2 separate regions of the Homo sapiens genome follow, and region 1 is linked to region 2. Evidence: fine-mapped expression QTL. A gene starts in region 2. The other region holds a variant in brackets. All regions are shown on one strand. Distances are from middle to middle. Region 1 overlaps KIAA1671. Region 2 holds the start of CRYBB2 (crystallin beta B2).

Region 1 (2,908 bases), 170 kb after region 2:
GTCCTTGTGTGGTCTTTCATTTTGATTGTTTCCTTCTCATTTGGACTCGCTGTCAACCAACTGAAATCTAGAGGGAATCTCTAACTAGCAGCCAGGATATGTTCTTGGGCGGGGGCCACCTCACAAGTTCCCACTTATTTCAAGTTGATTACACTCACAAGGACTACCACTGCTGTCAGCAGAATCCAAATGTTCCTCCCCTCCTTTTTCCAGTCTTAATAACAAAGTCATCAGGTCCAAATGCTCTCAAACCTCTCAACCTTTGCCCTGGCAGATCCTGCGTACAAAGATGCTGGCATGACGATGACACAGCACCAGCCTCAGAAGCAAAGGGCCACAGTTTCACCAGTTAGAGATGTGGGAAAGTCTGAGCTCAGTGTAAAACCAAACACTGCGGGTGTCCAGGAGGGTCACGTGGAAGTCAAGTTTAAAGGACCCCAGATGACATCCGTTGTATAGAGCACAATTTCACGCCTCTAAACCTCTGCCCATGCTGTTCCCTCGATCAGGGGCAAACCACTGTTCCCCAGACCATAGTTACCTGGCAAACACCTGCTCAGCCTTCAAGACTTAGAACTCAGACTCTTTGGTCTCGAACTCCTGCTTCTCAGCTAGCCCTCCCCAAGTGGAGACACCCCCTCCCTCCTCCAGGGAGACTTTACACAAATTCAAATTAAATTAAAGCACATGACATGATGCCTGGCATATAGTAAATGTTCAATAAACAGTAGCTATTAGGGAGCTTCCGGATACCTGAACACAGGGAGGTTCCTGGAGGGTGGCGTGCCCAGGGAGGGCATGGAAGCTCTGCACTCCCTCCCCCATACCTCACCCTACGCATCTCTGCTTCTACAGCTTATCTTTTGTAATAAACTGGCAAACGAAGAGGAAGAGAGACCAGAGACATCTACCTATCACCCACCTCCCACCCTGCATACACAGAAGAGGCTACGCAAAGACAAATGAAGGACACAGCTGTCAGCCACGGAGAGGAGCCTCATTAGAAGCCAGCCTTGCTAGCTCCTTCATCTTGGACTTCTAGCCTGTGTATCTGTGAGAAAGCAAATTTCTGTTGTTTAAGAAAAAAAAAGAAAATTAGCTATTAGAACCCACTGCAATTATTTACCTACCTTCTTTTTTTTTGAGATGGAGTCTCACTCTGTTACCCACGCTGGAGTGCAGTGGCGAAAACTCAGCTCACTAAAACCTCCGCCTCCCGAGTTCAAGCGATTTTCCTGCCTCAGCCTCCTGAGTAGCTGGGATCAAGTGATTCTCCTGCCCCTCAGCTTCCTGAGTAGCTGAGATTACAGGCACGCAACACCACGCCAGTCTAATTCTTCTTTTTTTTTTTTTTTTTTTTGTATTTTAGTAGAAACAGGGTTTCACCATGTTGCCCAGGCTGGTCTCGAACTCCTGAGCTCAGGCGAATCGCCTGCCTAGGCCTCCCCAACTGCTGGAATTATAGGCGTGAGCCACTGTGCCTGGCCTATTTACCTACCTTCTTAATTGTCTATGCCTTAGTCATAACTGTAGCCCACTGCCCAGCATAGCACTTACCACATGCAGATAAATATTTGTCAAAAAAAGGAGCAAAAT[C/T]CCTAAACACTCTACCTCAGCCCAACTGGTCCTCCAAGCACCCCCCTTTGTCTGTGTGAGTTCTCAGTCCCAAATGTCTCCCCTCCTACTTCCTGCACCTAACTGGACCCTCCCAGGTCATTTTCAGACCCCTGGGCTGTGAACTCCAGGAGGCTGACGGAGAAAATCTCCAGGCCCCATCATGCAGGGCCTGGCGCATAGTAGGCCCAAAAAGAAATAAACTCAAGAACCAAATGAGCCAGCATATGCTAACCAATAGGTTTCAGGGATTGGGAGAAAATTCTAGAGACTACCAGAGGCCCTCCCGCTGGCCCATTGCAAGGAAGCCTCCCAGCTGATGAATCTCTGACTTCATCGTCACAAGATGGGCCTCCAGGGTAAACTGTGACTCGAGGTCACAGTCCACAACTGAGTCACTGTGTTTTATGGTCCCTGTGAAAATGCAGACCAAAGCTCACTTCCTGGGGAAAAGAGGAGAGGGAGGAAGCCTGATACAGGACTTGGATTCGCCATGTGGACTCGAGGTCCTGAGGGGAACCCTGAAAGTAACAAGGGAGATGGGGAGAAACAGAGAGCACTGGCCAAGGAGTCACAAAGAAGAACTCCAGCCCCAGCTCTGCCTCTAGAGGCCACAGGACCATACACAAGACACTTCCCTACACTGGGCCTGTCTCCTCAACTGCAGAAAAACTTCTAAGGCTATGGATGTTTGTCTTTCCCATCAGCTCTTTGGGAGAGCATAGAAAAAAAACCTGGCCGCAAATAATAATAAAATAATAATAAGCCGGGTGCAGTGGCTCACACCTGTCATCTCAGCACTTTGGGAAACCAAGGCTGGCGGAAAACTTGAGGTCAGGTGTTTGAGACCAGCCTGGCCAACATGGCAAAACCTATCTCTACTGAAAATACAAAAATCAGCCTGGTGTGGTGGTGCACGCCTGTAGTCCCAGCTACTCAGCAGGCTGAGGCACGAGAATCACTTGAACCCGGGAGGCAGAGGCTGCAGTGAATCGAGATTATGCCACTGCACTCCAGCCTGGGCGGCAGAGTGAGACTCCATCTCAAATAATAATAATAATAATAGCTGCTATGATTTGTGAAGCCATTTCTCGGTGTCAGGCACTGTGCTAAGAGCTTTGTAAGCATCATCTCATTTGGGCTCTGTCCTCCCACCGGGCTACCACGTAAGACGAGTGGAAAGTTCAGCAGACACTTAAGAGCATGGACTGCAGACCCAGAACTTGGAAGAGACACTTAATGGCTCTGAGCCTCAGTTTGCCCATCTGTGAAGTGGAAATAATAGCAGTATCTA
Region 2 (2,908 bases):
AACACTCAACCCCAGACAATGGATACCACACAGAATATAGAATGGTCAATCCCAGAACTTCTGCCTTTATGCAGTAATTTCTTAAATAAAATTGTGTGGAACAAACAAAACCTATGCATTGGCTGTATTTGGTGGTGTGGTGGTGCCCAGTTTAGGAACTCACAAAGTTCCCTGTTCCCCTGCTCCTTCTCCCACCCTCTCCCTGGGACTCCTCTCCCCATCCTGGTACCTAGATTTCTCTTCTCTGCCACTGGTTTTACTCCCCCATTAGTGAAATCATCTGATACAGAACCCACATTACAAGAAAGAGAAGAAATGGGTGCGACGGTAGAAATCCAGGCACTGTGGCAGGCAGCAGGGTAGACCTGCCTTAGCTAGTGAGAACATCAGAAAAGCCTGGAAAATTGTCAGCCTCTTCCCCCTTCCTGCAGAAGGGGTGGTCAAACCAGGCTGTGTTTCCCCAGGGGTAAGAGAGGAAGCCTGGCCTCCCTCTTCAGAGATAACGCCAGCTTCCAGAAGCCCCTTCCACATGAAAGGCCAATACTGGATGTTTCCCAGGAGGAAGAAATGCAGTTAAGCACCTTGGCAGCCAAATCTACTGCTCTCCCGCAAGAAACCAGCCCTCTGGGCTTGTCAGAGTGCCTGAGGTCCTGCCATATCACTTCCCAGTCCTGAGTGTTCACAGACTGAAGAAGCTCAGTTGGTCCAGTTCAGGAGCAGTCTCTGCTGCCTGCCAGAATTGAGACTCTGGGCAGGTCTCATCCTCTCCCTATGCCTCAACTTCCTGTTCTATAAAATGGGGACAGTAATGATGTCTAATAATACCTGTGAACAGGTTGTGAGGATTCAATTATGTAATGTATAAAACCGGAAGCACTTGGCCGTGGTCCCAGAACACACTCAGCATGCAGCAAATGGCAGCAATTGTGGCATTATTAGAGTCATTTCTACCATGCTTTAGTGGCATTGAAATCACCTGTTGCTGGGACCTGTCACATACCTGTGGCTGCATCCTATCCCCTAGCACTCCCAGAGGCTAGGCACAGAGTGGGTGCCCCCTAATTGCAGATGTGGAGGAAAACTGACTCACCCACCTAGAAACAATGCTGAACTGTCACTGGTTTGATTCTTGCAAAACCCTCAGTTACATTCTCCTCCTCAGCGACTGGCGAAACAAGGATGCTGATAGTCTGTTTAATATTAATAATAAAGAACATTGCCCCAATGCCCACTGTGTGCCAGGCACTGTGCTGGATGATCCCCTAACTTCTCTTGAATCCTTACAATAAAGAAGGCTTTTTAACCCCCTTCCCAGTTACCAGAAAAGAAAACTGAGGCTAACAGCATTGAAGTCTCTGCCCAAAGTCACTTGTCAGAATCTGGGTGCTCCCATGCTTGCGGACAGGGGTGAGGATGAGAGAAAGAAGGGAAGACAAGCAAGAGAGGCAATCTTACCAGTGACACCAGCCCCTGCGAGTGCCGTGAAGCTCGGCCAGCGGGAGGTGGCATTTATACCTTCCCCAGAAGTGCCGGTGCCAAGATGAGTGACCGCTGTGCTCCTGCGAAAAGCAGGGTGAGAATGCTGGATTAAGCTCTCACCAAAGCTCGGGTCAGCAAATGCCCACAGACATTGTGTCTCTGCACAATAATGTCATTAGCTTTCAGATTCGGCCGCGCCAGGGCGGTCAGGCGGCTGGGCAAGGAGATGCCCGCTTTGCATGCATCAGCCGTCCGGCTGCCAGGGCCAGGGGTACGCTGGGTTCACTGGTACGGTCAGTCAGGCCGTGAGGCATGGCAGACAGAGGAACATCTCAGTGGGCCTGGGGAAGAACAAGTAAAGAAGGGTGGTTTGGCAGAGTCTGGGCTTCATTCATCTACCCATTTATTCATTCAACAAATATTTGTTGGGCATCCACTTGGTGACAATCTCTGTTCCAGGGGAGTGTCAGGAAGAGGACCTACGCCAGCCCAGGCCATTCAGAAAAGCTCCTGGGAGGTAGCGCATCCCTCAGGGATGGAGAAGAGGAAGCCTGGGAACAGGGTGGGGGGACAGTTCCAAGCAGAAAGGGTCCATATACAAGGAACCAGCATGGTGTATTTCAAGAAGACCTGAAAACAGGTTAACAAAGCTAAAGCATGACATGTGACAAATAGGGCCTGTGCCAGGTGGCCAAGGTGGGCAGGGCCTGATGTTGCAGGGCCAGGGAGGCCAATTATGGAGAGTGCATTTTATTCTCAAGGCCCCTGGCTGTTTCTCTTTCTTTTCTTTCTTTCTTTCTTTCTCTTTCTTTCTTTCTTTCTTTCTTTCTTTCTTTCTTTCTTTCTTTCTTTCTTTCTTTCTTCTCTCTCTCTCTCTCTCTCTCTCTCTCTCTCTCTCTCTCTCTCCCCTCTCTCTCTCTCTCTCTCTCTCTCTCCCCCTCTCTCTCTCTCTTTCTTTCTTTCTCTTTCTTTCTTTTGAGATGGAATCTCACTCTGTCACCCAGGCTGGAGTGCAGTGGTGTGATCTCGGCTCACTGCAACCTCTGCCTCCCAGGTTCAAGCGATTCTCCTGCCTCAGCCTCACCAGTAGCTGGGACTACAGGTGTGCGCCACCAGGTCCAGCTAAATTCTTTTTTTTGCTGTATCTTGTTAGAGACAGGGTTTTGACATGTTGCCCAGGGTGGTCTCAAACTCCTGAGCTCAGGCAATCCATCCACCTTGGCCTCCTAAAGTGCTGGGATTCCAGGCATGAGCCACTGCACCCGGCCTGTTTCTTAACCACTGTCCTAGAGTGAGTTGCTCTTAGATCCCTACCACTGGCCCCATCGCTGCCACATGGGTGCCCAGCCTTTACTCACATTTCTTTTCTATTTTTTTTTTTTTTGAGATGGAGTCTCGCTCTGTCGCCCAGGCTGGAGTGCAGTGGCAC

The links.
Region 1: its variant is fine-mapped to the expression of CRYBB2 in thyroid (GTEx, PIP above 0.99).

What each region holds. Positions count from the first base shown.
Region 1 is chr22:25,052,486-25,055,393 of GRCh38, reverse strand. All of the region lies in intron 6 of KIAA1671, which reads right to left. Among named protein-coding and RNA genes, the nearest start is that of KIAA1671-AS1, 59 kb to the left of the region's middle. The variant C/T (reference allele first, on the strand shown) is at 1,597.
Region 2 is chr22:25,218,214-25,221,121 of GRCh38, reverse strand. It overlaps CRYBB2 (crystallin beta B2), which reads right to left and starts at 1,483. Exons shown (of 6, transcript NM_000496.3): 1 at 1,456-1,483.